Regions from separate parts of the Homo sapiens genome. Here all the other regions are linked to region 1. Evidence: fine-mapped expression QTL. A gene starts in region 1. Each other region holds a variant in brackets. All regions are shown on one strand. Distances are from middle to middle.

The links.
Region 2: its variant is fine-mapped to the expression of EPB41L5 in whole blood (TOPMed, PIP above 0.99).
Region 3: its variant is fine-mapped to the expression of EPB41L5 in whole blood (TOPMed, PIP 0.98).
Region 4: its variant is fine-mapped to the expression of EPB41L5 in skeletal muscle (FUSION, PIP 0.95).

The regions. Positions count from the first base shown.
Region 1 is chr2:120,008,549-120,016,658 of GRCh38, forward strand. It overlaps EPB41L5 (erythrocyte membrane protein band 4.1 like 5), which reads left to right and starts at 4,529. Exons shown (of 25, transcript NM_020909.4): 1 at 4,529-4,662. It overlaps LOC107985817 (a long non-coding RNA gene), which reads left to right. Exons shown (of 4, transcript XR_001739205.2): 2 at 1,599-1,753; 3 at 3,092-3,110; 4 at 3,845-4,156. RefSeq lists a silencer at 4,705-4,874.
Region 2 is chr2:120,145,035-120,153,144 of GRCh38, forward strand. EPB41L5 (erythrocyte membrane protein band 4.1 like 5) reads left to right here. Exons shown (of 25, transcript NM_020909.4): 20 at 1,191-1,255. Among named protein-coding and RNA genes, the nearest start is that of TMEM185B, 74 kb to the right of the region's middle. The variant A/C (reference allele first, on the strand shown) is at 4,764.
Region 3 is chr2:120,105,608-120,113,717 of GRCh38, forward strand. The region is part of intron 16 of EPB41L5 (erythrocyte membrane protein band 4.1 like 5); the gene reads left to right. Among named protein-coding and RNA genes, the nearest start is that of EPB41L5, 97 kb to the left of the region's middle. The variant C/T (reference allele first, on the strand shown) is at 4,021.
Region 4 is chr2:120,052,344-120,060,453 of GRCh38, forward strand. The region is part of intron 3 of EPB41L5 (erythrocyte membrane protein band 4.1 like 5); the gene reads left to right. Among named protein-coding and RNA genes, the nearest start is that of EPB41L5, 43 kb to the left of the region's middle. The variant A/AT (reference allele first, on the strand shown) is at 3,138.

The DNA.
Region 1 (8,110 bases):
CTTTTTTTTTTTTTTTGAGAGGAGTCTCACTCTGTTGCCAGGCTGGAGTGCAGTGGCGCGATCTCGGCTCACTGCACCTCCACCTCTGGTGTTCAATCGATTCTCCTACCTCAGCCTACCAAGTAGCTGGGATTACAGGCGCCCACTACCACGCCCAGCTAATTTTTGTATTTTTTTAGTAGAGACGGGGTTTCACCATGTTGGCCAGGCTGGTCTCAATCTCCTGACCTCGTGATCCACCCACCTCGGCCTCCCAAAGTGCTGGGATTACAGGCGTGAGCCGCCGTGCCAGGCTGGTAGGCACCTTCTATAGCTACCCACAGTTATTTGTCTCAGCAACATTCTCTCTTTGAGGCTAATAGAATTTGGATTTGTTCAGAAAGTTAAGGAGAGCCCTTGGTCTCCAGCTCCCAAGGGTGAATCCTGACTGGTCTAAGCCAGTCATGGTATTCTCTTTCCCTATGGCCTTTAATTGGTCTGAGTTAGGGCAGGTAGTGTAGTTCTGGCCGGAGACAGGGGGTGCTGGTACTTTCTTCTCTGAATTAAAAGACAAGGCTTCAGGTAAAGGTCTTTTTCCCCTTCCCTTTTATTCCTGAAACTCAAGAAAGCTGGAGATAAGCATCCGTCCTGTGGCCAGTATGCTAGAAGCATGAAAACCAAGGTCAACATGCTAAGGGTGGCAAAGCAGAAATGGTAAAGGGGTTTAGGATCCTTACAGCATTGTTGAGGAGCAGAACCAGTACTAATAGCTGCCTACCTCTAGATTACTTATGTGAGAAAAATAAACTCCTTATTTTTCAAATAACAGTTAAAATTTCCCATTACTTCCAGCCAAATGCATTTTTCCTTGATACAGCTATATTTAAGGAGAGGGCTTTCTCTGTCTCTGGCAGAAGTCAATTTTCTGGTGAATTTATCACGAAACGTGTGTTACAGAGGGTCCCTATGTCTAGAAGAGAGGATCTGGGGAGACAATGATTTGTTATTAGGAATAATTTCACATAATTAGAACATGAACAACTTTCTATGACTTGGGCCCTTAAGTTTCATCCTCCTTTCCTCAAGTCTTCATATTTCCTTTAGCCTATAACCATCTTTCTCAACAGATTTCTCTAACCTCATCCACAGCCTCCTTCAGTTCCACCTTTTTTTTTTCTGGAGATGGAGTCTTGGTCTGTCACTCAGCCTGGAGTGCAGTGGCGCCATCTCAGCTCATTGCAACCTCCGCCTCCTGGGTTCAAGTGATTCTCCTGCTTCAGCCTCCCGAGTAGCTGGGACTACAGGCACACACTGGCACGCCTGGCTAATTTTTGTATTTTTAGAAGAGATAGGGTTTCACCTTATTGGTCAGGCTGGTCTCGAACTCCCGACCTCAGGTGATCTACCCGCCTCGGCCTCCCAAAGTGCTGGGATTACAGGCATGAGCCACCGTGCCCAGCCCCAGTTCCATCTTTGATAGGAGATAGAAAAAAAGATTGAGCAGGATGGATGAAGAGGACACTGTTTTTCAAAACTGGTATGCTTTTCAACAATTTAGGAGAATAAGATATGTTTATAAGTATTGACAGAATTCACTTCCATTTCTGATCTGTAATCAGATAAACCAGAACTTTTCAAATGAGTAAACATCAGGTAAACATGGAAAGAGACAGTCTGGACAGGCTGAGGGGATGGCACTGAAGACCCTGCAGTTTTCCAACTGGCTAATCAGACCCCTGGGAAGAAGGAATGCTTTTCGGGGTACCTGGCCCAGGTGGGTTTGTTTGTTGTTTTTTGTTTTGTTTTGTTTTTAGACAGAGTTTCACTCGCATTGCCCAGGCTGGAGTGCAGTGCAGAGAAAGCAGCTCACTGAAACCTCCGCCTCCTGAATTCACGCGATTCTCCTGCCTCAGCCTCCTGAGTAGCTGGGACGGTTTTCACCATGTTGCTCAGGCCAATCTCGAATTCCTGAGCTAGAACTCTTGAGCCTTGGCCTTCCAAAATGCTGGGATTACAGGTGTCCAGGTGGTATTTTTTTAAATACTCTTTTTTTTTTTTTCAGACAGAGTCTCTGTCGTCCAGGCTGGAGTGCAATGGTGCAATCTCAGCTCACTGCAACCTCCACCTCCTGAGTTCAAAAGATTCTCCTGCCTCAGCCTCCCTAGTAGCTGGGATTACAAGCATGTGCCATCACACCCAGTTAATTTTTGTATTTTTAGTAGAGACGGGGTTTTACCATGTTGGTCAGGCTGGTCTCGAACTCCTGACCTCAAGTGATCCTCCTGCCTCGGCCTCCCAAAGTGCTGGGATTACAGGCATGAGCCACCACATTCGGTCTAAAGGACTTTATTATGAAAAATTTTAGATAGAATAGTTTAACGTCCCCATCACCCAGCCTCAGTTTATGGCCCATTCTTGTTTCATCTATACCATTGCTGCTTCCCCCTGCCATATCATTTCGTTTTTTTGTTGAGATAAAGATGCAAGATGACCAGCAACAATTCCTCCCATCCCTGAACACCCATGCTGCTCCTCTCATGAAGAGTGATGAAAATATTCCACAATTAGATTGTGGTTTGTGGTTCTACAACTCTGTGAAAATACCCAAAGCCATGGAAGTGTACACTTTAAGTGGGTGCATTATATCTCAATAAAGATGTTTTTAAAAGGTGGAGAAGGAAAATTTCTCTATTTTAATAATATTTAAAGAAAAAAAAAGAGGTAGAGTCTCTTTCATCTCCTTGAAACTGGGCGGCCTCTGTGATTTGCTTAAACCATTAACAGGCAGCAGAAGGGACGCTCCGTGACTGCTGGGCATAGCCCTTCATAGGCCTCAGAGCTTCTGTTTTCACTGTTTTGCCACACCAGCGGATCTGCAAGAGAGTAGCCCAGGCAGAACTCAGCTGTTCTTTGCAGCCACCCCAGCGGAGATGCCACACAGACCAGTGAAACCACCTTGGCAGCTCCAGCACCTGTTGAGCTGCCCAGCCAACACCACATGGGGCAGAGATGAGCTGCCAAGCCTGTCTACTACGTTTTGGGGTGGTGGAGGAGTGGGCAGTGCCAAATCCCGAGAAGAAGCTCAATGAGTATTTGTCTCTTTTCATTTCAGCAAGCAGAGGGTCCTCAAGGTAACACCTTCCAGTGGCTCCCCCACCTCTCTCAGAGCTCTAGCCAGGGCCCACAAGGCCCTACATCTTACCCCTTTCCTCTCTGACTGTCACCTCCTCTTCCTCTTGCTTCCTCACTTCTAGCCACACTGGACTTCCTTGAAAAGACAGACCTGTCCCCTTGCAGGGCCTTTTGCCCTTGCTGTTCCCTTCGGTTCTCCCCAGATGGCCACAGGGTTCCTCCCACACCTCCTCTAGGTCTTCATTCAAATGCTACCTTTTTTTTTTTTTTTGAGACTGAGTCTGGCTTTGTCGCCAGGCTGGAGTGCAGTGGCGTGATCTGGGCTCACTGCAACTTCCGCCTCCCGGGTTCGAGCGATTCCCCTGCCTCAGCCTCCTGAGTAGCTGGGACTACAGTCGGACGCCACCAGGCTCAGCTAATTTTTGTATTTTTAGTGGAGACGGAGTTTCACAGTGTTGGCCAGGCTGGTCTCGATCTCCTGACCTCGTGATCCGCCCGCCTCGGCCTCCCAAAGTGTTGGGATTACAGGAGTGAGCCACCGCGCCCAGCCAAATGCCACCTTCTTATTGTGACCTGCTATGTAAAATCGCAAACCCTCACTGCCTGTGGTTATTCCCTACTTGTACTTTTCTTTTTAGCATTTACCAATGTCTGACAGTATTTAATTTCACTAATTTATCTCGTTTATTTTATGTCTCGTTTATATTCCTGCTATAACGTAAACTCCGGGAAGGATTTTTGTCTGTCTTGGTTGTCTGTCGTATCTCGTGTCTAGAACACAGAACTCACAGTAAGTAGGCACTTCAATCAATTACCTGTAGAATGAACGGACTGAATGTCACCTTGTTAGAGTACCCTCCTGACCACACTCTGCTAAGCAGTAATCTTTTATTTCTCTTTCCCAGTTTTATTTTTCCTCATTTACACTTAATCACCTTGTGACACCTATTTGTTTACTGTTTCCCCAGTAGAGTGAAAGTCACTTTAACAGCAGAGATTTAAATGTATTTTAATCCCTACAAAGGAGAAAAAGGGAGGAAATACGTGACAGGCTCTCAATAAGTATTTGCGAAGGATTTAATCTCTTGAACGAATGGATGAATGAATCTAGCAGCCAGCTCCACCAGCCTCCTTCGTGATAGGACTAACTGGGGTCTGTCTGCGGACGGGCGCCTCCTCCGCGGGCGGAGGGCCGCAGCGGGAACTGGGTTTCGGCAGCGCCCCTTTAAACCAGCCGCGGACGCCCGGCTGCTGGCGCTAGTTCCAGCCCGGCCGGGCCCGGCCTCGCCGGTTTCTCTCCAGTCGCCGCGCCGGCCAATTTCCGGGGCGGTGTCATCGCCCGTTTAAGAGCGGAGCGCTCCGCCCTGGGGGCGGAGCTGGGAGGGAGCTTTAAGGGGTGGACGGGCGGGAGGTCGGGGTCCTCCGGGGATTAGAGCCGGTGGGCTCGTTGTGGGCGCCATTTCTCGGCGTCTACCGAGGAGCCGCCCCTTTCTCAGCCTTGCTCGGCTCTTCCCCGCTCTGGTCGCCGGGGCTGCGCCGTCCCCAGCTCAGGTAAGCGCGAGGCCCGGCGGCGGCGCCGCAGTACAGTCCGCTGCGCTCCTAGCCGAGTGGACCCTTCCTCGCCCGCGCCTGCGGTAGCGGCCTTGTCCCCGGGGAGGCGGGCGGGGGCCGCACCCAGACCCTAGGGCGGCCGGCCCCTCTCTCGTCGGGCCGGCAGGGCATTAATCCCGCCGGAGGGAGGGGCGGCGGCGGCCAATGAGGCAGGGCCGCCGAGTTTCGGTCGATACCGCGCGACGGGCCGGGGCGGAGGGCCCGGGGCAGCCGGGTTAATGTTTGCCGAGCGGACGCGCTCCCCGAGCCGCGGGTACCCCTCGCTGGTCCGCTGGGCTGCCGTCCAGCGGGAGAGACAAAAGTCGCAAGGGAAGGGGAAAAACGAACTGAGTTTGTGTCACTGTCTTGGTGGACTTTTCGAGCTAACCTGTATTTGAGAAAAACTTCAGTCTCTTGGGAAAGGAGAGGCAGGTGTGTTCCCATGAAAGACGAGGTCTGAAGGTCCCGCCCCGCCCCCACCCGGGACGGTTGTCGTGCTAATGATGGGTTCTTTGGTGTGTAAATGTTAATTGTGTCTGTGGTTACTCGAATTCTACCTAAGAGCGAGACCCAACTCTTAAAACGTTTGGCAATATTTTAGACTAATATTAAAAGTTTTTAAAGAATTACGGGGAAAATTCCCATAACCGTGTACATTTGTAATGTAACCCACAACTGCATTAACTCAGTTTCTAACATAACCCGTTGCTGAGCTCTAGTTAACCTTGTTGGATTATTTGTGCATGTAATATGCTGTGCAGGCTTTAGAAAATAGGTTAACATTATTCGAAAACGATATGCGTAACTGCTGTTGAATTACTCGCTTGCATTTTCTTTATTGGGAATACTGGGACAAAATATAGTGTTACCTTAAATGGCATTTGCTGTATGTTATATTGCTTTATCAAAAAGCAATTAACCAACCATATTGTGGCCACCAGTCATGTAAGAGTATACATATTTCATGACTAACTTTTGGGTTTTGGGTACTTTTTTTAACCAACTTCTGATAGGATTGCTTAAATTTGCATTTTATGATTCTAAAGGAAATCCTTCTAGTTAGGAACTAGAGTAGAAACTACTGTTTTTTGGAAGCCACATAAACCTACCATCCAAAAATTCCACTGTGTCATTCTAGTGTGTCAGGCGAGATGCGGGTTAAGCCAGCTGTTGGGCCAAAGTAGTGAACAAGCCAGACGAAGTCTTTGTCCTTGTGTGTGAGTGGGGGAAGTAGTCAGTAAAAAAGATAATAATTAACAGATATTTAATTACAATTTCTTTGTTATAAAGAAAAGGCTAAGAGTACTGAAAGAGATGTCGAATTTAGACTCACAAGTCTGAGATTGCTTTTCTGAGAATAAGACATTTCAACTATAAGTCTGAAGTTAGTCCAGTGAAATGGGAGCGGGTGGAAGAGAGGTCAACTGGAAAAAGAGCAATCCAGAAAGGTGGAACAGCTAATGAAAAATGGTCCAGAATTAAAAAGACTCTCCGGCCGAGCAGCAAGAGTACAAGAGCAGAGCAAACAGAGGGGAGTAGGCTGACAGATGGGTCAGGCAAGTAGGAGGAGCTGCATCTAGGACCAGGGCCATTAAAGATTTTAGAACAGGGATCAGATTTGTGGTTGCCAAAAATCCAGTGGCTGCAACATGAAGAGCGCAATTGGAAGAGTGCAGGTGGGAGGGGAAAAGTGAGTATGAGAAAACTTTTTTCACAATCATTAAAAAAAAAAAAAACCCACAACTTTTAGTGATCCATTCATATTATTTTTTTTTTCCATTAAAAAAAATTAGGCCAGGCGCAGTGGCTCACGCCTGTAATCCCAGCACTTTGGGAGGCCGAGGCGGGCGGATCACGAGGTCAGGAGATGGAGACTATCCTGGCTAACACGGTGAAACCCCGCCTCTACTAAAAAAAATAACAAAAAATTAGCCGGTCGTAGCGGCGGGCACCTGTAGTCCCAGCTACTTGGGAGGCTGAGGCAGAAGAATGGCGTAAACCCGGGAGGCAGATCTTGCAGTGAGCCCAGATCGCGCCACTGCACTTCAGCCTGGGCAACAGAGCGAGACTCAAAAAAAAAAAAAAAATTAGGTGGGGTCTTGCTGTGTTGCCCAGGCAGGTCTTGAACTCCTGGCTTCCAACAGTTCCGCCTTAGCCTCCCAAAGTGCTGGGATTACAGACATGAGCCACTGTACCCAGCCATATATTCTTGTTGTGACTTCTGACATGCCCCTCTTCAGAGAGAATCTCAACAGTTTACGTGTGTGTCTGTTTAGCGTGTCTGTGTGTGTGCATGTATCCCATCTCCGTGTAGGATGAAACTCTCTTCAGTGTTCTGTGATTTGATTTTTCACTTAGAAATTTTGTCATATCTAAGTCAACTATTTATTTAAAACAACTGTATTATGGCTGGGCTTGGTGCCTCATGCGTGTAATCCCAGCACTTTGGGAGGCTGAGGTGGGAGGAATCCGATTCCCTGAGGCCAGGAGTTTGAGACAAACCTGGCTAAGTAGCAAGACCCTGTCTCTACAAAAAATCATTGAAAAAACGTTAGCCCGGTGGGATGGTATGTGCCCGTAGCCCTAGGTGGGAGAATCCCTTGAGCATGGTAGATGAAGGCCGCAGTGAGCCCTGGGTGCTAGAGTGAGACTGTCTCTAAAAAAAAAAAAAAAAAAACATAAAAATAAAACAACTGTATTGTATGCTGTTGTGTGTACCATAACTTGTTTAACTGTTTGCACATTGATGAACACATTTAAAATTTTCTTAAATCAGTTATGCTCCGAAAAATCCTGTTCCTACAACTTAAAGCACATGTGTGATTTTTTTTCTTTAGGTTATCCTTCCAGAAATAGAACTGTTGAGTAAGGAATATGCATGTTAAAATTTCTAGTATTGGTCCGGCGAGGTGGCTTACGCCTGTAATCCTAGCACTTTGGGAGGCCGAGGCGGGCGGATCACCTGAGGTCAGAAGTTTGAGACCAGCCTGGCCAACATGGTGAAACCCAGTATCTACTAAAAGCACAAAAATTAGCTGGGCGTGGTGGCTGGTACCTGTAATCCCTGCTACTCAGGAGGCCAAGGCAAGAGAATCTCTTGAACCCGGCAGGTGGAGGTTGCAGTGAGCCGAGATCGCGCCATTGCACTGCAACCTGGGGGACTAGGTTGAGACTGTCTCAAAAAAAAAAAGAATTAAAAAAATATTAATAGCATGGTCAAGTCTCCCTCCAAAAAAGGCCAACGTAGGAGGATTATTTTTTCTCACATTCTTTTTTACACTATCTTGAGTCTTTAAATGACAGACAATATCTTATTTTTTTTCATTTGGATTTTCTTGGATACTGTTAAAGGTGTTCGTTTTTATGAACATCTTTTAAATTATCTTTTAGGACTTTTTCGTATCTTGCT
Region 2 (8,110 bases), 140 kb after region 1:
TAATTAATGATGAAAGCCACATCCACTGAAATAGCTAAAATTAAACACTGACCATCCCTGTGCTGGTGATGATAGAGCTCCTGTGGTGCACATACATTGCTGGTAAGAACATAAAATTGTATAAACACTTTAAAAGAGTTTGGCAATGCATCAGACATACACATATCATCTAACCCGCAATTACATTCTTAGATATTTGCCCAAGAGAAATCAAAACTCAGGTTAACACAGATGTTAGTACATGAATGTTCCTAGCAGCTTTATATGAAATAGCTAAAAACAGATGATTGTGATGTATCTATACAATGAAATGTCTGAATAAAAAGGAATAAATTAGTGATTTGTACAACAACATGAGTGAATCTCAAAGACATCTCCATGCTGCTCTAAAGAAGCAGATGGAAAGGATAGGTACTGTGATTCCAATTATATGAAACTGTGTAAAGTATAGATCATCATTTACCTCAAATAAGGGTTTTTTCATGGGATTATGTGGGAAGCCTCAAGGGAATATTGAGGCGGGGAGTGGGGGAGATAGTAGAAATGTTACATGATGTTGGCTAAACACTTGTATGCCTTTAAAAAAATTTATTAAACTGTACTTTAAAAAAAATTGGTGCATTATTGATGCCAGGTGCGGTGCCTCATGCCTGTAATCCCACCACCTTGGGAGGCCCAGGCAGGTGGATTACTTGACATCAGGAGAGTTCAAGATTGACTGACCTACATGGTGAAACCATGTCTCTACTAAAAATACAAAAATTAGCCAGGTGTGGTGGCACATACCTGTAATCCCAGCTACTCGGGAGGCTGAGGCAGGAGAATCACTTGAACCTGGGAGGCAGAGGTTGCAGTGAGCTGAGATTGTACCACTGCACTCCAGCCTGGGGGACAGAGTGAGACTCAATCTCAAAAAAAAAATAAAAAATGGGTGCATTATTGAGAACCATCTAGTAAGATTGTGTGAATTTGTATACCAAATAAAAAAAGGAATCTTTGATTATTAATTTAGGTATGGGGTAAGATTGTACTAGGTACACTGCTGGTATTTCCATAGATAAGGTATGATTACCTCTTATTTTAATTAAAGCAAACTGATATTTCTGTTGTTACCAGAAAGAAATGTAAATTTCTTGTTACTTTAGTATCCTCAATAAAGATTTACTTTTTTTAATATTTCATTTTCTTAGGTTACAAAAGAAGATAGCTTATTAAGTCATAAAAATGCCAATGTTCAGGATGCTGCCACAAACAGGTACAGTTCTGGGTAGACTGAATTAAATTGATGTTCTTATCTATCTTTGTCTTTTTTTTCTTCTCAGTCTGTCACCACATGGTTTCAGGATGTCTGTCTGAAAGATAGCTTGAATTCACTCTATTGTATCCATTACAGACCACTTAGTACCTAGTTTTATATTATTTGAAGATGTTCCTAATTAGTCTCCCAACATTCCCATTTATCTTCAACTGATTCGAACCAACAGAGCAGAAACCGTCTTAAAGATATGTGTGATCTTTTCAGTCACCTGGTAAGGAGTGTGTATTATTCTCTTACAGTAAACTTTCATGTCATCCTGTTATCACAATGGCCTTGTTCTTATCAACTTACTTGCCATGGGTTCTCACAGTAATGTAGTTAACTTTCTTTGCTGCTCCCTCCAAGTCTCTTCTGCCCTTGCTCCCTTTAATGAGTATTTTGGCATTTATTTGTCTTGTTAGTTAGGCTTTTATTCCATGCTTTATGGCCATTGACTTTCTTCACCACTGTGAATCTAATGTTCTGTGCTTAGTGTTAAAAAATGTTGAGCAAATAAATGCTGTTTCTTTTTTTACTGTTCAAAACTGATTCAGTCAAGGAATATGATTGTGATTAATCATATTCAGTTCCAGATACCGCAGTCAACATGGCACCACACATAGTATGCATAGTGTATAGCACTTTATATTATAATAGTTAGTACTCAGCAAAAGTACTAATTGGTGATCAGGGTAAAGCTAGAATTACAACTTGACCTTGTAACTAATGCTAATTGCCAGGCACGGTGTCTCAGACCTGTAATCCCAGCACTTTCAGAGGTCAAGGCAGGAGGATCACTTGAGGCCAGCAGTTTGAGACTAGCCTGGGCAAGATAGTGAGATCCTGTCTCTACAATTAAAAATAAAAAATTAGCCGAGCATGGTGATCCACGCTGTAGGCCTAGCTCCTCAAAAGACTGAAGAGGGACAATCTCGTGAGCCCAGGAGTTTGAGGCTGCAGTGAGCTATGATCGCACCACTGCGCTTCATTCTGAGTGACAGAGTGAGACCCTGGTTTTTTTTCTAAGGGGCCAGGCCGTGGTGGCTCACGCCTGTAGTCCCAGCACTTTGGATCGCCTGAGGTCATGAATTCAAGACCAGCCTAGCCAACATGGTGAAACCCGTCTCTACTAAAAATACGAAAATTAGCTGGGCATGGTGGCGCACGCCTGTAATCCCAGCTACTGGGGAGGCCAAGACAGGAGAATTGCTTGAACCCAGGAGGCAGAGGTTGCAGTGAGCCGTGATCGTGCCACTGCACTCCAGCGTGGGCAACAGAGCGAAACTCTGTCTCAAAAAAAAAAAAAAAAAAAAAAGGAAAGAAAATTCTGATAACCACTGTTAGTAATAACATTTTTAGTACTATTGTTATTATTGAAGTCTTTCAGAATAAAATTTTTTGTTTGCCAGGAGAAGGGTAATGGGAACAGGACTGCCCAATGTTCATCAGAAGTTTCATTGAACTCTTGAAGCTGGAAAGAGCCTAGAGCATACATGCAGATTTATTTTTCTAAATGCCTGTTCATATTTTGAAGAATCTATTTTTCCCCTAGGATTTCAAATGCATCCTTTGAAATATACTAGGTTCTTATATAAACATGGGTGTATTTCTAGATCTTTTCCTTCTCTTTTAATCTATTTTCCCCATGCTATACAACACTGTTCTGTTTTACTGTACCTCCTTTTTGAAAATGCAGTATTTTAGGCACAGAGACACTATGGAGAAGTATATAATATACTGTATATAGTATACCTGTATACCAAATATCAAGCTTTGTCACATCTTAACATTTTACCATAATAGATTTAGATCATTTTTCTTTCTTTTTTTTACTGACATAATTCACATACCACAAAATTCACTCTTTAAAAATACACAATTCAGTAATTTTACAAAATTGTGCAACCATTACCACTATAATAAATTCTAGAACATTGTTTGAGAATGTTCTAGAAACACCATAGGTCTAGAAACTCCTTACCCTCACTCCTTACCCTTTCCAGACCTTAGGTAAGGTAGAAACCTTCATACTCACTATAATACTCATCCTAGTTCTCATATATACTCATCCTCATTCTACCTTACCTAAGGTCTTCATACTCACTAGGATGAGTATTATAGTGAGTATGAAGGTTTCTACCTTACCTAAAGTCTGCAAACACTTTACCCATTAGCAGTCACTCCATATTCTGCTTCTTGCCCAGCACCTGGCAACCACTAATCTACTTTGTCTCTGTGGATTTACCTACTCTGGACAGTTTATGTCAATGGAATTATACGTGTCCTTTTGTGTCTGGCTTCTTACATTCAACGTAATATTTTCCAGATTTGTCCATATTGTAGCATATGTTGGTACTTTGTCCCTCCTTATGGCTAAATAATATTTCATTATATAGATATACAACATTTATTTATCCATATATCAGTTGATGGACATTTGAATTGTTTCCACTCTTTAGCTATTGTGAACAAAGCTAGACGTGAATATTTGCATACAAATTTTTTTTTGTAAATATACTTTCAGTTCTCCTTAGTATATACCTAGGAGTAACACCATTTCTCCTCAGTCATATGGTAACTCTATATTTAACTTTCTTAAGAACTGCCAAATGTCTTCCAAAATGGCCGTAACATTTTTCATTCTTACCAGCAATGTATGAGGATTCCAATTTCTCCGTGTCATTGACAGTGCTTATTATTCTCCTTGTTTATTATACTCATCCTAGTGAGTATAAAGTGTGTCTCATCTCATTGTGGTTTGATTTGCATTTACCTAAGGACTAATGATGTTGAACATCCTTTCGTGTATGTCTATTTGGAGAAATGTCTATTCAGATCATTTATTTTTGTAGTAACAGCTTCATTGATAAATTTGATTCAAATACCACACAATTCATCCATTTAAAGTGTGCAATTCAATAGTTTTTGGTACATTTTTGTACATTTAGTACATTCTGTATTTAGTACATACAACCACCATCAGTAACAAATTTCAGAATATTTTCGTCACCTCAAAAAGAAATCCCCTGCTCTTTAACTGTAACCCCATCTACCCTGCACTGCCTTTCCCCTAACCCTGAGGAAGTACTTTTCTACTTTCTGTCTCTATAGATTTACCTATCTGGACATTTCATATAAATGATACTCTGTAATATGAGGTCTTTTGTGTCTGGCTTCTTTCACTTAGCATAATGTTTCCAGGGTCATCCATACTGTACTATTATGTATCAGGACTTTATTTCCTTTTATGGCTGTATAATATTTCATTGTATGGATATACCACAGTTTGTTTATTCATCTGTTGATAGACATTTAGATTGTTTCCACCTTTTGACTGTTAGGAATATTGCAGCTATGAATAGTCATGTACAATTTTGTGTTTGAACACCTGTTTTTCAGTTACACATCTAGAGTAGAATTCCGGAGTCATACGGTAATTCTGCTTTTAACCTTTTAAGGAACTGCC[A/C]AACTGTTTTCTACAACCACTGCACCATTTTCTATTTCTCCCAGTAATGAGTGAGGGTTTTTATTTCTTTACACTCTCATGGTATTTCACTGTACTTTTTTTTTTTTTTTTTTTTGAGACAGGGTCTTGCTCTGTCACCCAGGTTGGAGTGCAGTGGCACAAGCACAACTCATTGCAGCCTCAAACTTAGGCTCAAACGATCCTCCCACCTGAGCTTCCTTAGTAGCAGGGACTACAGGCACATGCCACCATGCTCGGCTAAGTTTTTTTTCATTTCTGGGAGAGACAAGGTGTCACTGTGTTGCCCAGGCTGGTCTTCGAACTCCTGAGCTCAAGCGAGCCTCCCATCCCAGCCTTCCAAAGTGCTGAAATTACAGGTGGGAGCCACCACACCCAGCCTCAGTGTACTTTTGATTTGCATTTCTCTAATGATTAAGAATGTTGGGGATTTTTTCATGTGTTTGTTGGCCATTCGTGTAACTTCTTTGGATAAATGTCTATTCAAGTCCTTTGCTCATTTTTTATTTTATTTTCTTATTTTTTAGAGACATTATTGCTCAATCACCCAGGCTGGAATGCAGTGGCACAATCATAGCTCACTGTAACCTTGAACTCCTGGGCTTAAGTGATCCTCCTGCCTCAGCCCTCTGAGTAGCTAGGATTACAGGCACACACCACCCTGCCCAGCTAATTTAAAAAAAAAAAGTTTATTTTATTTTATTTTTTTAGAGATGGGGTCTCACTAAGTTGCTCAGACTGGTCTCAAGCTCCTAGCCTCAGGCAATCCTCTTACCTTGGCCCTAAAAAGTGTTGGGATTACAGGTGTGACCTACTGTGCCTGCCCACCCCATTTATTTTTATTTCTTTTTTTTTTCTAATCCCATGACAGATTACCCATTTTTAAATTGGGTTTACTTTATTGTTGAATTGTAGGAGTCCTTGATTGAATATCAATTCTTAATACTAGACTCTTACCGAATACATGATTTGAAAATATTTTTTCCCATTCTGTGGATTGTCTTTTCACTTTCTTAGTGATCAGCCTTTTGATGCATAAAAATTCTTTGTTTTGACGAAGTCTAATTTATCTACTTTTCTTAGGTTGTCTGTGCTTTTAGTGTTTTATATAAGAAACCATTGTGAAATTCAAGATCATAATGATTAACAGTTGCATAGCTTTGGCTAGAACTTCCAGTATAGGAAACATATTTAGATCTTCTGTCTATTTTCAGTTAATTTTTTCAGCTGGGCATGGTGGCTTATGCCTGTAATCCAGGCTGATGTGGGAGTATTGCTTGAGCCCAGGAGTTCGAGACCACCCTGGCTAACACAGTGAAACCCTGTCTCTACTCAAAATACAAAAAATTAGCCGGGTGCCTGTAGTCCCAGCTACTCGGGAGGCTAAGGCAGGAGAATGGCGTGAACCTGGGAGGCGGAGCTTGCAGTGAGCCGAGATCACGCCACTGCACTCCAGCCTGGGCGACGGAGCGAGACTCCATCTCAAAAAATAATAATAATAATAATAATGCAGAAAAAAACCTATTAGATCTAATAAACTCAGCACAGTTGCAGAATACAAGATAAATACACAAAAATCAGTTGTATTTCTATACACTAGCAGTGAACAGTTTGAAAACAAAATTAACAACTATGTTACAACAGCATAAAAGATTTAAAAACCTAGGAAACAATTTAACCAAGGAGGCAAAAGACTTGTACACTGAAAACTACAAAACACCACTGACCTCATGATCCACCCACCTCGGCCTCCCAAAGTGCTGGGATTACAGGCAGGAGCCACTGCGTCTGGCCCTTTTTTTTTTTTTTTTTTTTTTAAAGACGGAGTCTTGCTCTTGTCACCCAGGCTGGAATGCAATGGCGCGATTTTGGTTCACTGCAGCCTCTGCCTCCTGGGTTCAAGCGATTCTCCTGCCTCACCCTCCTGAGTAGCTGGGATTACAGGCACCTGCCACCATGCCCAGCTAATTTTTGTATTTTTAGTAGAGATGGGGTTTTACCATGTTGGCCAGGCTAATCTTGAACTCCTGATCTCAGGTAATCGGCCCGCCTCGGCCTCCCAAAGTGCTGAGATGACAAGTGTGAGCCACCACACCCAGCTGGTTTTTTCTGCATTCTATAAGATTTTCTATATACATGATTATGGCATCTGTGAATAGCGATAGTTTTACTTCCTTATTTCCAGTTGGGAAGTTTTTATTTCTTTTTCTTACCTGATTGCTTTGGCTAGAACTTCCAGTACAGTGTTGAACAGAAGAGACAAAAACTGACATTCTTATTTTATTCCTGAAAGGGATAAAGGGAAAGCTTTCAGTCTTTCACCATTGAGTGTTGTGTGTATGTTTTTCATATATGCCCTTTACCATACTGTGGAAATTCCATTCTATTCTGTTTGTTTTTATCATGAAAAAGTGTTGCATTTTTGTTATATGCTTTTTCTGCATCAGTTGAGATGCTCATCAATTGAGATTTTTTCCTTCTTTCTGTTAATATGGTGTGGTTTTCTGATGTTGAACCACTCTTGTGAACTTCTAGAACAAATCCTACTTGGTCATGTTATATAAGCTTTTTAATATTCTTCTCGATGCAGTTTGATAACATTTTTTTTAGGACTTTTGTATATATATTCATCAGGGATATTGGTCTGTAGGTTTCTCCAACTCCTGGCCTTAAGCAGTACTTCTACCTCAGCCTCCCAAATTGCTGGGGATTATAGCTGTGAGCCACCATGCCTGGCTGGTTTGTAATTTTCTTACAATGTCTTTATTTGACTTTGGTGACAGGGCAATAGTGTTGGCCTCATAGCATGATTTAGGAAGTGTTCCTTCTTCTGCTGTGTTTTGGAAGAGATTGAGAAGGATTATTGTTAATTCTTTAAATATTTGGTAGAATTCACCAGTGAAGCTATGGTCCTGGGCTTTTCTTTGTTGGAAAGTTTTTGATTACTGATTCAATCTCTTTACTTGTTGTAAGTCTATTCAGATTTTCCATTTCGTCTTAAGTCAGTTTTGGTAATTTGTTTTCAGGAATGTTTGCATTTCACCTAGGTGATTTAATTTACTGGAGTAAATTGCTCATAGTATTTTCTTCAAATCCTTTTTATTTGTTTTTTACTGAGAGGTTTCACCCTTTTTAATTTCTGATATTAGTTGAATCTTTTCTTCCTCATAAGTCTAGCTAAATATTTGTCAATCTTGTTGATCTTTCAGTGGACTAACTTTTGGATTTAAGTTTTTCTTAAGTTCTTTGTTTTTCTAGTTCCTTAAGGTGTAAAGTTAGGTTATTGATTTTAAGATCTTATTTTTAAATGTAGGGATTTACAGCTATAA
Region 3 (8,110 bases), 97 kb after region 1:
TAATTATGTGTAAGAGGATGGCCACTCAAAGTATTTAGCACATCCTCTAAATATAAATAGATCTGTATCTTAAATAGCCCGGCTCCCACCTCTTTAAGCCCATCATCGTTTAGCAAGCTTAAAAATGGCCACTAATGTATGGCCCTTATAGTTGTTTTAGACTTTACATAGCTCAGATGATAATTGCTAAGTATTGTCATGGCTGATTTTTTTTCTTAAAAGAGAGGAATTTGGATTATAACATTTTAAGCACAGAAGCTCTGGGTTGTGCCATTCAAGAAAAGGTTTCATGGGTATGTATATCATTAAAAAAAGTACTGTTTCTATAGTAAAAACCAAAGAGGCACAATGAAGTTGTAAGATTTGACTTCACTCACTTTAAAATTATTCTTAATCTGCAGGACATGCTCATATAATGCCCCATATATATCTTAGCAGATTGTAATTGAAGAGTAAGATCTTCAGTTCATATTGAAAGTGGCCATTTCTGTATTTATAATTTGAGTTAATCAGTACTGTTACATTTAAGGGAAGATTCACCTCATGATTTTTCTTTTGTTGAAAACCTTGTTGTAAAGAATTGATTTGCGAATTCCTGATGAGAGAAACTGGATTGGAGGGGTGTTAGGGATGGAGGCAGCGATAGGGGTGAGGAAAGTAAAGGGCTAAGGCTGGATGGTAGTAAAATTAAACTTGTCTATTTTATAGAAGTTCCCATATGCTTCAGAATTTCATATCAAATATTGCAAATACTTGTTCTTTTTACTGATATTTGCAAGATGGATATATATGTTGTTTCCAGAGCTCTCAGGTATTTATAAGTAGCTCAACCTAAATTAAATAAATTGTCACCAACCTATTTACACTCTACATTTTATTATGCCTAAAGAGTCAGTGATGATAAATTCGGAATTAGAGAAGTAATAACCTCCAGAAGCACCTTACTGGGTCACCATCCTTTTGATCAAAGGGTGTCATCAGTACAGAACTTAAGTATTATGTCATTTAATTTACAGTGCTTTGGCTAATTTTATTTAACTTAATTAATTTAACATCTTGAATTAGGTTGGTTACATTTTGACTGTTTTTACAGTCAAGGAAACTTGTAGAAACACAGCAAAGCTAGTGACCTTCACACTTTCACGCATGAACATAAATGAGCTCATAAGATCATCGTCTCTTTTTGTTGCGTTTCAAAGGCGTTTACCTATCTTGGAGTAAGATCTAACATTTCTGACCTTGATAGGATAATCATAGATAACATACTTTTAAATGAATTTACAGAGAAAAATAAATTTTATTTGTCCTACTATGTGTATAATATGTCTGTTTTGAAAAGCACCTAGTATACAAACACTAATATTGTAATACCAGTATAATTCAAATCATCTTTTTTTTTTTGGAGGGGAGTTTATTTAAAGTGTTGGCCAAAAAATGTTATTTATAACACTTGGTTGGATCTTTTTTTAAAAATTTCTTTTCATTGTTGTTCACTGTTCAAAAGGTACATCGCCAGGTTGGATCTTTTTATTTACTAATGTAAACTGAACAAGTTTGAAGGTGGTTGTCCCCTATTAGTTCATCGTGCCCCAGTGGTGGGAGCTATAGTTGTTTGAGCCATGGTACTGTCTTTGGTCAGGGCACACTCTTCATTTCTAAACCATGGTTCATTGCTTTGAGAGGCTGTTATTTTAGTGTTAGTCTTTGAATATTGGTTTGAAAATATTACAGTTACTATTTTTTATGATTGGTATTAGGACTTATGGATTTGCTAAAACAAAATCATCTTGTCTCAATAACGTTTTCTCTCTTTCCCACCACATTCTTCCTTCCTGAATTTTAATATGTGTTATACCACATCATCAGTTATATCTTGCTTTCCAGGATTGTTGTGAATGCTTGTATGTGAGATGCTTTTACATAAGGGCTAGGATTTGGAGATAATTCTGCGGTGGGGAAACAACTTTCTCTCCTTCCTTCTCCATGCCAGCCTCTTCCCCTACCCCCATGTATAAAATGTGATTTGTCAGATCCTTTCTAGATACTATGAATCGTGGATTTAGATATGGTAGTCTTCCTCTAACCCCCTTTTGCAGAACATAAACATTTCTCATCCTCTGTTCATACAATTTTTTACTTTAGTCACATGAAAACATTGTGAGAATGGAATCTTGTTCCATTAACGTTAACCTTGGTGGTGTAGAAATTAGGACATGAAGCATGTCACTTTCAGTGTAAAATATGTCAAGGAACTTCATTTCTTTCATCAATTCCTGACAATTGCTAATGTAGTAATGCACTTTAGTTGCTTTGAGCACTTTGGGCTGGTGAGAAGGGAAATACATAGTGTCTTTGTTAAAAGAATGAGTGAAGAGAAGAGAAAATTTTAAAAGAAATTGGTGAAAGGAAAATAACTTTGGCTTTTTTATTGTTATTTTTATACTGAAGTAGACAAACAATTGTTCCTGTTCTTCCTGAAGGAATTGTTGTCACAATTTTATTATTATTAGATAATTACCTAAGCTTCTGTGTTACAAGCTGTGGCCTCAGTTCTAGGTGGTGGTGCTTGAGTGAACATTTTACATTTTGTTCCTGACAGCTGGCCAGCATTGTGTTTATATTGGCATGGAAAAGAGATATCTGATTCAGAGAACAGTGTTTTCCAAGGATTGTGACTGAAGACTTCCTTAATGGTGTAATAATGTACCTCCTCATAAAAACAGGTTTGACAGCTGTAGCTCATTTTTTGTTGTTGAAGGAAGTTTTATTTGTTTTGTTTTTAACTACTTTTAATAAAGAATTGAGATCCAGTGTATGATTAAGATTTGTAAGAAATTGCAGATTCCTTAATAAAGCTCGCATCTACAGACATGACTAATCATTGATAATAATAAATGCAAAATATTTTAAATTATTAGGGGTAGAGTTAAAAAATGAAAAATAAAAGGTTATGATAATAGGAAGATGATTGCTGGCTTGATTTACCTTGTGGAACTAGTTAGAGGAGTATTCAGATAAATTGTGGAAAACATTAGAGGATGCAAAATACCACTGGAATTTATACCCATTAACAGAGAAGAGTTTCTTATTACAAAACTGTATTTGTAGCCCCACCAATAGCTTCAGGAATTATTTAATTATAAACTGTAGAAGTTTGGAGATAAGACCTGTGTTTAATAACTCGCATTAAATCTTTCTGGGGACATCATCAGCAAAACTCTTGGATAATTAGAAAGACCTGGGAAGATTGGGTTCTCTGGAATATCCAGGTTATCACTTTGAAATTTCACAATCATGTTGGAATAATAACATTAAAATATTTGAGTAGTAAAGGCATTGAATATCAGTCTGAGTCATCCACATTTGGTAAGGAGGCCTGGGGCATTTGTTGCAGTGAAAGATTTCAGGAGTCTTGTATTGATATCTCTTTTTTTGATTCATCTTATTTGTTGGACACCTACCAGAGTACCTCATTGGGTCTTCTTTATACACAGCCACTTATCATTATGCCTTTCCACATACCCTTGAATTTCTTGACCCTCTTCCTGTTGTATGCATCTGGTTAAATCCAACTCTGTATACTCTGCATATAGCTGGTGAATGTGAAATACACACAAAATTTTTGAGTGGTCTTTAAATTTTGACCACTAAGCTCAAGTGAGCCTTCAATGCTCCCTGATACCATATTACATTTCCTTAATCTATTTGTTCTCCTACAATGCTGGGCTGACTTTCTCCTCTTACAAACCACTTCCTCCTCTTACAAACCACTTCCTCCCTTCCTACTCTGTTCTCAGCTGATGACCTTGCTTCCTACTTTATTGAAAACATAAGCAATCAGAAGAGGTCTTCTCTGTACTCCCACCATTTTATCAGTGAACTTACCTGCATTTGGGAATTTGTTCCTTGCTTTCCCTGCTGTTACTCTAGGTGAACCATCCATACTCTAAGGCCCAGGTCCTCACTAGTCATTTAGATCCTCACCTCAAGTTACTCAAGACCATCATTTGAGCAATCCTC[C/T]GTTTTGTTCTACTGCATCGGTTTTCCCTTTCTACTGAAGTATTCTCATCAGAACAAAAACTTCCTAAGATAGCTCACATCATTTAAAAAAGAACTCCCTTGAATCTACCTCTTTTGGCAATTCCTCCATTTTTTTGTTTCACAGGTAGCAAAACTGTTTGCTTTGTAAGAATTGTCTATACTTGCTATCTCTTCTTTCTCTTAATCTCTTGAACCCATTCTAATCAAACATTGTCCCTGACACAGAGGACTGGGTATGATTGTGCAGATTGCATACTGTACAAGAGTGCCACATTTAGGAGAATGATGTTCACATAATTTATGACAGTGATTTTCCAGCAGATGGCACTAAGTGTCTTGTTCCGAAAAGATTAGTGTATTTGACAATTTTGCAAATTGGATGTGTCTTTTCAGAGGAGCATTGTTTTAATCCATATAAAGGCTCTGCCTTGAGTTAATAGTGTTATGCTACTACTCCACCAAAATAGCTTTATTAGATCACAAATGACCTGCATATTTCTAATCCCACAGTCCATCTTTTAGTCAGCTTAATTAGCATTCAGAAATCGCTCACTTCACGAAATTGTCATCACCTAGCTTAGAGATGTCACTATTTTTTATTGTCTTCTAACCTCCCTTCTAACACGCCATTGTCTTCTAACAAGCCATTGTTTTTAATCCCCTTTGCTAATGCCTACTTATCTCTCCAACCCCTAAACTCTGTTTAAGGAACTTTCCCGTAACAATTTATTCCCTTTGTAATATCATCCAGCATTATGGTTTTAAATGCTATCTATACACACTGGCAATTTCTCAGTTTATATCATCACCCTGAACTTTTAAATTTCCACACTTACATATCCAACTGCCTATCTGACATCTCTACTTAGGCATCTAATATAGGCATCTCATTTTAAATATTCTTTATTTTGAGGTAATGTTCAGCTTACAGAACAGTTTCAGGGATAGTACAGAAATTCCCACACCCTCCTGCCCTACCTTCCCCTATTTTTTTTTTTTTTTTTTTGAGACCAAGTCTCACTCTTGCCGAGGCTGGAGTGCAATGATGCAATCTCTGCTTACTGCAGCCTCCGCCTCCTGGGTTTCAGCAATTCTCCAGCCTCAGCTTCCGGAGTAGCTGGGACTACAGGAGTGCGCCACCATGCCCAGCTAATTTTTGTATTTTTTAGTAGAAACGGGGCTTCACCATGTTGGCCAGGCTGGTCTCAAACCCCTGGCCTCAAATGATCCTGATCTGCCCGCCTTGGCCTCCCAAAGTGCTGGGATTACAGGTGTGAGCCACCGCTCCTGGCCCCCTGTTGTTAACACTCCACATACATTCCATAACTTGTACCAATGTTAATTTCTTAGATTTTGTTTGTTTCACAAAACCTAAGAAATTAACATTGGTACAATACCACAAACTAAACTGGACCTTACTCAGGTTTCACTAGTCTTTCCACAAATTTTCCAGGATCTGACCCGAGATCCCATGTTACATTTAGTCCCCTTCAGCCTGTGACAGCCATTCCATGTTTTTCATGGTTGGCCAGATGCCTTGTGGAATATTTCTTGATTTGGGTTTGTGTGGTATTTTCACATGATTAGTTTGAGGCCACGGATTTGGGAGAAAATACTGCAGAAGTGATATTGGGCATCCCGAATTTAATATGTTCAAAATTGGACAAATATATCTCCTGACCCCTGCAGTTTTTCCCATCTTTGTGGTTTTTGTAGCTTCGTAAGTGGCAGTTCTCTTTTTCGTGTTGCTAAGCGTGTCTTGGGCTCTACTTTAGACCTGCTGAATCAGAAACACTGGAAGTGAGGTCCAGCAATCTGTTTCACATGCCCTCCTGGAGATTCTGATGCATACTGAAGTTTGAGAAGCACTGACTTAGACCAGAGCACCTTATAGTCATCTTGACTCCTCTTTGTCTCACACTCCAGATTTCTTTCAGAATCAGTAAATTCTGTCAGTTCTGTCTTCAAAATGTATCCAGGTCTACTGCTTGTTACCATCTTTACTGCTCCCATCCTGTTTCCATTTGTTGTCAGCCCTGCCCTCTTACCTGGCCTCCTTGCCATTGCCCTTGCTCCTCTACTGTCTGGTACTCCTTTCAGCAGCTGTAGTGATAACAGCAGATCATGTCATTTCTCTGCTTACACCTGCCAGCGTCCTTGTCTCGGAGTAAAACCTCAGATCCTCACATTGATAGAAACATGCTTTTTCCTCCCTTTATCTTCTATCAATCCTGACCTTGCTTACATCCAAAGACTCATCTTCTTATACTTGCTCAAACATACCAAGCATGTTCTCTCAGGATCTTTGTACTTTTACTGCTTCCTGAGTATTCCTCCCTTCAATCTCTTATGGTTCATTCCGGCACCATCAGGTTTCTTATTGGAGAAGCCTTTCCTGACCACTCTGAAATAATCATGTTCCCCGCCCCCTGCCCAGTCTTCTTTTTATTTCCTGTCTGCCTTACCCTGCTTTATTTTTTCTCACTCCTTTCATCTTAGTATGTGTTTGTTTGTCCTCTCTATACAGATAGTCCCTTATGATGATTCTTAGGATTTTTCAACTTTATGATGGGTTTATGAGAGTATTAAGTGCATTTTTGACTTACGATGGGTTTCTCAGGACATAACCCTATTGGGTAAGTCAGAGTGTCCGTTTTTCAACAGAATGTACGCTCCGTTAAGGGAGAGCATTTATTTTGTTTCCTTCTGTATCCTCAGACACTCCATATATATTATTTGATTGAATCAATGAATACCAAGCATGTCTTGGCACATCTGGTGATGCAGAAATAGTCAAAATACTGTTCTTGGCTTCAAGAAATTTATACTCAAACTGTGGAGATAAACAGTTTTACAAATAACTGATAAAGTGCTAAATCCAGCAAGCAAGAAGAGTAGAAGTGGTTGAAGTTAAGAAGGCTTCTTGGCATTTGCATCAGGTTTCCAGTGAAACAGAAAGGAGCTTTGAATGGATAAATCATTACGGGCCCAGGGACCTATAGGAAAAGAAAATTCTAAAGTAGCTAAGTGCAAGGTGTAGTCCAGGAATGATGAATCAGGTTTGAGTAAAGAGTATAGAATTTATGGGAAGGTATCGTGATAATAATAGCTAATACTTGAGTGCTTCTGTGCCAGACATTGTTCTGGAGGTACAGCAGTAAGTATTCACTCTAGCAAAGCATCCTCATTTAATCCTTATGAGGATCTATAAGGTATTCAGGCTAGTGAAGAAATGAAGGCACAGAACAATGAGGCTGGGCTTCAAACTCAAGACAGCTTAGTCCTAGAACCCAGCCTTGGCTACTGTACTGCCTCCATAACTCTGTAAAGGTTGTTGGGGTCCAGATTGTAGAGAGTAAAAAGGAATGTAATAATTCTATTTTAGGGGGCAGTGTGAAGAATGAATTCCAATTGGTGGAAGACTGGATTGTATTATAAAAATATGCTGCCTCCATTCTATGTAATTGTTAAAGAATCAGGTCAGTTTTCATGTACTTTTACTAGAGGATATCAGTGACACTGTTGAGTTTAAAACTTAAGTGTCTGAGGTTTGTTCCCATTTTTGTGAAAGCAACCAAATCATGTATATATTAGTAAGTGCACGCACACATGCAAGAACCTAACTAGATAAACAGGCTTTCAGAAAATGGGAGTGAGGGTAACATTGCTTTTCTTAGCTATCATTCACAACTTTAACAATAAATTACTCCAAATTATGGAAGGAGACAAGGAAAACTGCTTCAGTTTACACAGGCAAGTGTCCATGAAAAGTAAGGAAATAGGTAGAAGAAAGAATGTCTTTACATATTTCTTTATACATTCTTGAGAGATGGATATGAACTAAGACATTACCAAAGCCACAGATTAATAATATTATGTGTAACTACGTTTAAAAAAATTTAAGTGTATAATTCAGTGGGTTTAGTTTATTCACAAAGGTGTACAACCATCACCACTATTTAATTCCGTAACATTTTTATCCCCAAAAGAAACCTCTTTCCTATTAGCAGTTACTATCAATTATTCCTTCCTACTAGCCCCTGGCAAACACTAATTTACTTTGTGTTTC
Region 4 (8,110 bases), 44 kb after region 1:
TCGTTCTGTCCTATTGGGTGTCATGTACTTTCATTTGGTCCCATTACTAGTGATACTAAATTTGATCCCTTGATTAAGATGGTGTCTGCTAGGCCTCACCACTATGAAGTTATTCTTTTTTCCCTTTGTCATTAACTATTTTGTGGGCAGTTATGTTGAGACTTTTCCTCATCAAACTTTCTATTTATTTATGAACTAATAGATTCCTGTTTTAATTCAATGGGTTATATCTGTTACTATCATTTAATTTGTTGCTCAAATTTTCCCACGTATGGTCAATGGGAGCTGCTTCAAGATGGCTTCTATGTTCATTTGACATGGCCCCTTCATTCTTTGAGCTCTGCCTTACTTTCTGGCTTATGAAGGTATGCCATGTTCATCTTGCAGTGCCCTACTCCAGCCCTGGAATTAGCCAGTTCTCCAATGAGTCTTGTGACCAGATTTAGGGAATATGTGTTTATGTTTATTTCTCCATATCTCTCTCTCGAATACCATGAATACCATAACTTCAACACCCATAAATAATTGAAATTCCAGTCTAACACTACAGGGCTTCTTGTAGTTTTTTTTCTCTTTCCATATTTGTAGTTCTCTTCTATAGAAACCAGGCTATGATTATCACCAGTAGATTTACTATATTGATCACTCAGCATGTGTGGAACCAGTCTCTAGCCTCTCCCTGTGTACATGCTGGTCTTGCTCAGACAACCTAATTATTTCTGGACTGAGTTATTATTTTTTATTTTTATTTTTTGCTGTTTCTTTGATCTTGGATGGACTGAATTATTTGGAAAAAGGAAAGGATTGTGAAACTTGTCACCTTACAAATACACAGTGGAACGTAAAGCACTCCTTTGACAGTTGTATTGAAGAGTTATTACCTCAGAGATTTGGTTTGGAGTAGGAAGCTTAAAGAGAAGAGAGAAGGCATGCTTAAGTAAAAGAAGGAGTTGGTTTTAGTTAGCATGACGATGTCATTTTTTCTGTAAAGTAGGCCACTTAAAAAAAAGACAATTTACATACCATAAAGTTCACCATTTTAGATTGTACAATTCAGAGTTTTCAGTATATTTAGAATTGTTCAGCCATCATCACTAATTCCAGAACATTTTCATCACCCCCAAAGAAACCCTCTTACACGTTACCAGTCATTTCCCATTTACCCCTCCCCACAGCATCTGGCAAACGCTGTCTATGGATTGCCTATTTTGAAAATTTCATTTGAATGGAATCATGTAATAGGTGGCCTTTGGAATCTGGAAATGTACTTAGCATAATGTTTTCATGGTTCATCCGTGTTGTAGCATATCTTAGTGGTTGATTCCTTTTTATTGCTGAATAATATTCTATTGTATGAATATATCACATTTTATTTACTCATCCATTGATGGACATTTGGAGTATTTCTACTATTTGGCTGTTATGAATAATGCTGCTCTGAAGGCTGGGCATGGTGGTCTGTAATCCAAACACTTGGGGAGGCTGAGATGGGTGGATTGCTTGAGCCCAGGAGTTCGAGACCAGCCTGGGCAACTTGGCAAAACACTTGTCTCTACAATATACAAAAATTAGCCAGGTGCGGTGGTGTGTGCCTGTAGTTCCAGCTACTTGGGAGGCTCAGGTAGGAGGATTGCTTGTGCCAAACTTTTCCAGTGATGGCACCATTCCACACTCCCTACCAGCAGTGTATGAGGATTCCTGTTTCTCCACATCCTTGCCAACTTGTGATTTCCCCTTCTTTTTGTTTAGCCATCCTAGTTGGTATGAAATGGTGTCTCATTGTGGTTTCGATTTGCATTTCCCTAATGACTAATGATGTTGAGCATCTTTTCATGTGCTTGTTTGCCGTTTGTGTATCTTCTTTGGAGAAATGTCTATTCAGATCCTTTGCCTGATTTTTTAAAGTGTGTTATTTGCTTTTCTGCTGTTGAGTTGTAAGAGTTCTTTGTATTTTCTGGGTACTCAGCCCTAGTCAGATACATCTGCAAACTTTTTTCCCCTACTTTTCACTTTCTTGATAGTGTCCTTTGACAAAAGTTTTACATTGTGATGAAATCCAGTTTACCTACTTTGGTTGCTTATGCTGTTTGTGTTATATCTATCAAACGATTGCCTATTCTGAGGTCATAAAGATTTACACGTTTTCTTCTAAAAGTTTTTTTTTTTTTTGAGAAAGAGTCTCACTCTTCTCACTCCAGTCACCAGGCTGGAGTGCAGTGGTGCAATTTCGGCTCACTGCAACTCCGCCTCCCGGTTCGAGCAGTTCTCCTGCCTCAGCCTCCGAAGTACCTGGGACAACAGGCATCTGATTCATTTAGAGTTAATTTTTGTATATGCTATGAAGTTGGGGTCCACCTTCATTCTTTAGCATGTGAATATCCAGTGATCCTAACACCACTTGTTAAAATGACTTGAAGGGTCTTGTTGCATGCTTGTTGGAAATCTATTTACTATAGACTATAGATATGTGGGTTTATTTCTGGATTCCCTCTTCTGTTCCATTGATACATACATATATACACTTTTTTTTTTTTTTTTTTGAGACGGAGTTTCACTTTTGTTGCCCAGGCTGGAGTGCAATCATGCGAACTTGGCCCACCACGACCTCTGCCTCCCGGGTCCAAGTGATTCTCCTGCCTCAGCCTCCCAAGCAGCTGGGACTACAGGCATGCACCACCATGCCCAGCTAATTTTGCACCTTTAGCAGAGATGGGGTTTGTTCATGTTGGCAGGCTGGTCCCAAACTCGACCTCAGGCAATCCGCCTGCCTCGGCCTCCCAAAGTGCTGGAATTATAGGCGTGAGCCACCATGCCCGGCCTGTTCCATTGATCTTTATGTTGATCCTTATGCCAGTACCACAGTGTCTTGATTATGGTAACTTTGTAGTAAGTCTTAAAATTGGGAAGTGTGAGTTCTCCAGCTGTCTTCTTTTTTCAGTATTCTTTTGGTTATTCTGAGTCCCTTGCATTTCCGTATAAATCTTAGGGTCAGCTTATCCATTTATGCAAAAAAGGCAGTTGGAATTTTGGTAGGGATTGCACTGAATCTGTATATCAATTTGGGGAATATTGCCATTTTAACAATGTAGTCTTCTGATCCATGAACATGGAATGTCTTTCTCTGTATTAGGTTTTTA[A/AT]TTTTTTTTTTTTTTTTTTTTTTTTTGAGACAGAGTCTTGCTCTGTCAACCAGGCTGGAGTGCAGTGGTGTGATCTCGGCTCACTGGAACCTCTGCCTCCCGGGTTCACGCCATTCTCCTGCCTCAGCCTCCCTAGGTTTTTAATTTTTTAAAACAATGTTTTATAGTTTAAGTTTATAGAAGTCTCACTTCCTTGGTTAAATTTATTCCTAAGCATTTTATTCCTTTGGTACTATTTTAAATGGAATTGTTTTTATAATTTCATTTTTGGATTGTTCATTGTTAGCATATAGAACTGCAACTGATTTTTGTGTATTTATTTTGTATCCTGTAGTCTTGCTGAACGTGTTTATTAGTTTTAATGTGTTTTTATGTATAAGATCATGTCATCTGCAAAAAGATGGTTTTATGTCTTCCTTTAGAATCTGGATGTCTTGTGTTTTTTTCTTTCCTTTTCTTTCCTCAGTGCCCTGGCTAGAACCTTCAATAAAATGTTGAATAGAAGCAGTGGGAGTGGACACCCTTGACATATTCCTGATCTTAGTGGGGAAAATGTTCAGTCTTCTACCATCAAGTATGGTGTGGGAATTTTATAGATGCCCTTAATCAGATTGAGGGAAGGTCTTTTCTATTCCTAGTTCGTTGATGCTTTCATAATGAAAGGTCGTTGGGTTTTGTCAATTGCTTTTTCTGCATTTATTGAGAGGATGATGTGAAGTTTTTAAAAAATCTGTTTATATGGTATGTTATGTTGATTTTTTTTTTTTAATGTTGAACCAACCTTGAATTTTTGGGATAAATCCCACTTAGTCATGGTTTATAGTCTTTTTTTTTTTTGAGATGGAGTCTCGCTTTGTTGCCCAGGTTGGAGTGCAGTGGCGTGATCTCAGCTCACTGCAACATCTGCCTCCTGGTTCAAGCGATTCTCCTGCCTCAGCCTCCCAAGGAGCTGGGATGACAGGCATGCACCACTGTGCCCGGCTAGTTTTTGTATTTTTAGTAGAGATGGGATTTCGCCATGTTGTCCAGGCTGGTCTTGAACTCCTGTATGCAAGCGATCCTTTTGCCTCAGCCTCCCAAAGTGTTGGGATTACAGGTGTGAGCCACCACACCTGACCATTGGTTTGCCAGTATTTGATGATTATTTTGGTACTATATTCATAAAGGATATTAGTCTGTAGTTTTCTTGTGACTTTTTTTTTTTTTCTGGTTTGGGTGTAATGCTGGTCTTGTAGACGAGGTGGGAAAACCATCCCCCCTCTTGTATTTTTTTGGAAAATCTTGTGAAGGATTAGTGTTAATTCTTTCAACATTTGGTAGAATTTGTCATTGAAACCATCTGGTTCTGGGCTTTTGTTTGTGAGAAGTTTTTGATTATTGACTCATTCCTTTACTTGTTACAGGTGTATTCAGATTTTCTTTTCTTTCCATTTTGAGACAGGGTCTCACTTTGTCACCCAGGCTGGAGTGTAGTGACGCCATCACAGCTCACTGCGGCCTCAACCTCCCAGGCTCAAGGGATCCTCCCATGTCAGCCTCCTGAGTAGTGGGGGCTATAGGCACCCACCACGCCTGGCTAATTCTTTATTTTTTTGTAGAGATGGGGGCTCACCATGTTGCCCAGACTGGTCTTGATCTCCTGGATGCAAGTGATCCTCTTCAGCCTCGCAAAGTGCTGGGATTACAAGTGTGAGCTACCACGTCTGGCTGTGTTTTCTCTAAAGGCCACTTTAGAGAGTAAAAGGGGTACTTAATGAATGAGGGATTGGGATAGTAGGCATAAGCTGCCAGTATTATTCTGGTAAACCAGAATATATGGTCATCGTTGTTTTAGTGGACTGCAGAATACTACCCCATCGTCTATTTTAAAATCTAAATGTAATTTAATATCCTTTTATATAGTCCAGTGATGATCTTAAACTTAGAGTTATGAAATCTGTGGACTTACCCTAGAAAAATGCACATACACATAACGTTTTGTCTGTACATAGTAATTCAGATATCCCCCAAGCCCAACTATGAATTCTCCAATTTAGTAACCCTTCTTTAGCAAATGAATAACCTATAGCTTAAGGGAAGATGGATAATGGTATAAATCTGTGAGTTTTTCTGTTTAAATCTTTAAGACAGTTACGCCGTCAAACATTTATAATCTCTTTTTTTTTTTTTGCTGTTGGTACAACTTTGTTATTAAATCTCATTGTATAACTAAACAGATATTTTTATGGTAATATATTCTTTCTTGATGAAGGCTTAGGGAAACACTTTTTTTTTGCTGTCATAAAAATAGTACATGTAGCAAAGCCACCCATGACAGGAGCACTGCCAATATTAGTGGTTAAAAAAGTGACAATTTTGGGTAGTTTCTTGTATACAGGACTTTCCACAGTAGAAGTAATATATTTTTAATTTTGATATTGAGTGGTTTTAGGTTGGTACAATAAGACTTTGCAAAATAATTGGAGAGTTAACTGTACCGATTTCCTGGAGAACACATTTGATACATTTTGAAGGAACAATTTTCAGTCTTAAAATCACATGTTTACATGGACCAGGCAGGAGAGCAAAAGAAGGGAAGCAGGTTGGTGTGCACATTAAAGATTTTGCATGGTTATTTACTCCAAGAAGAAATATGGTTTCTCTCATTTAAAAAAAAATCTTGCTACATACTTGTTATGTTTTGTATTTTCCTTCATTTTATTTTATTTTTAAATAAAAGAAGCAGGGTTTTGCTGTCTGTGTCTGCCCAGGCTGGAGTGCAGTGGCATGATCAGAGCTCACTGTAGCCTTGATCCCCTGGGCTCAAGTGATCCACCCACCTCAGCCTCCCAAGTAGGTAGGACTACAGGTGTGCACCACCATGCCTGGCTAATTTAAAAAATAATAATTTTGTAGAGACTGCCCAGGCTGTTCTGGAACTCCTGGCCTCAAGTGATCCTCTTGCCTTGGCCCTCTAAGGTGTTGGGATTACAGGTGTGGGCCACTGTGCCCAGCCCTTTTCTCATTTTTGATAGGGATAGAGACAGAGAAATATAGATAGCGTGATGATAAATCATAGCTGATATCCAGCAGACTGTAGAGGATCAAAAAGGATTGGTGGAGGGGATGTGGTGAAGTGGGAAGCATTTTACATTTACCTGCAAAAGACAGTATATGGCAACTACCACCTAGCTCCAGGCATTTGCTGTTAAATAGGTTTGTTGTACCAGCATTGCTGGATCTTCAGGTATTTCAAGAAAAGCTGAAATCCAGATTTCAAGGCTAAATTGTCTATTTTTAAAAAGTTGTTAAACATATTTTTAAAAATAGCGTGGCTGATGGAGAAATCAAAGAAGATAAAAGTAAATGGAAAGACATTCTACATTGAATGGAAGACTCAACAAAGATACCAGTTCTCCCCAAATTGATATACAGGTTTAATGCAGTTTTTCTCAAAATTCCAGTAAGATCTTTTGTAGATATAGGTAAGATTATTCTAAAATTTATATGGAAAGACAGAGGACTACTAGAATGGCTAAAGTAATTTTAAAAAAGGGGAATAAAATGGGAGGAATCATGCTACCCAATTTCAAGACTTACTATATAGCTTTCATAATCAAGACTTTGTGGTATTGGCAAAGCGACAGACATGTAGATCAATGGAAAGAAATAGCCATACACAAATATGACCTCTGATTTTTGTCAAAGGTGCCAAAGTAATTCAGTGGAAGAATAGTCTTAATAATGGTGCTGGATTAGAACCTGTGGAAGAAGGAAAAACAAACAAACTAAAAAAAGTGCTGGAGCAGCTGGATATCTGTAAGACAGAAAAACCTTGACCTAAACCTTATACCTATACAAAAATTAACTCAAAATGGATAATGAGCCTGAATATAAAATATAAAACTATGAAACTTAGAGACAAATAAACAGGAGAAAATCTGTGGGACCTAGAGTTTAGAGAAGAGTTACTAGTAAACATGATACCAAAAGGATGATTTTTAAAAAAAAGATAAAATGGACTTCATAAAAAATTAAAAACTTTTGCTTTGGGAAAGACTCTGTTAATAGAACGAGAAGCTAAGCTACAGACTGGGAGAAAGTATTCGTATATCACACATCTGACCAGGAACTCGTGTCTAGCATATATACACAATGCCTAGCTGGGCGCAGTGGCTCACGCCTCTAATCTCATCACTTTGGGAGGCCAAGGCAAGAGGATCACTTGAGCTCAGGAGTTCAAGACTAGCCTGGACAACATAGTGAGACCTTGTCTCTACAAAAAAAAACAAAAAAAGTCTGCTGCTGTGGCTACTTGGGAGGCTGGGCAGGAGGATTGCTTAAGCCTGGGAGGTGGAGGCTGCTGTGAGTGTGACAGCCACTGCACCTCAAACCTGGGCGACAGAGCGAAACCGTGTCTCAACCAAAAACAAAACAAAACAAGCTCCTCAGCTCAACAATTAGAAAGCAAACAGTCTAATTCAAAAATGAACAAAAGACATGAAGAGACATTTCACCTGAGAGGATATACAGATGACAAATTCATGAAAAGATGTTAGACTAGCCATCAGGGAAGTGCCAATTAAGACCTCAGTGAGATGTTTTCACTACACATCTATCAAAACAGCTAAAGTACAACATGGTGACAACTCCAAATTTTGGTGAGAATGTGCAGAAATGGGATCTCTTATACATTGTTGTTGGGATTGTAAAGTGATATCGCTACTCTGGAAGATAATCTGGCAGTTTCTTTTAAAACTAAACATATACTTAAACCATATGACTAATCAGTTGTATGCCTGACCATTTATCCCAGAGAGATGAAGACTTACTTCCACACAAAAACCTGAGCATGATTGTTCATAGCATCTTTATTTGTAGTAGCAAAAAACTTGAAACAACCACAGTGTCCTACAGTAAGTGAATGATTAAACAGTGGCACAATCATACCATGTAATACTACTCAGCAATAAAAAGAAAAAACTATTGATACA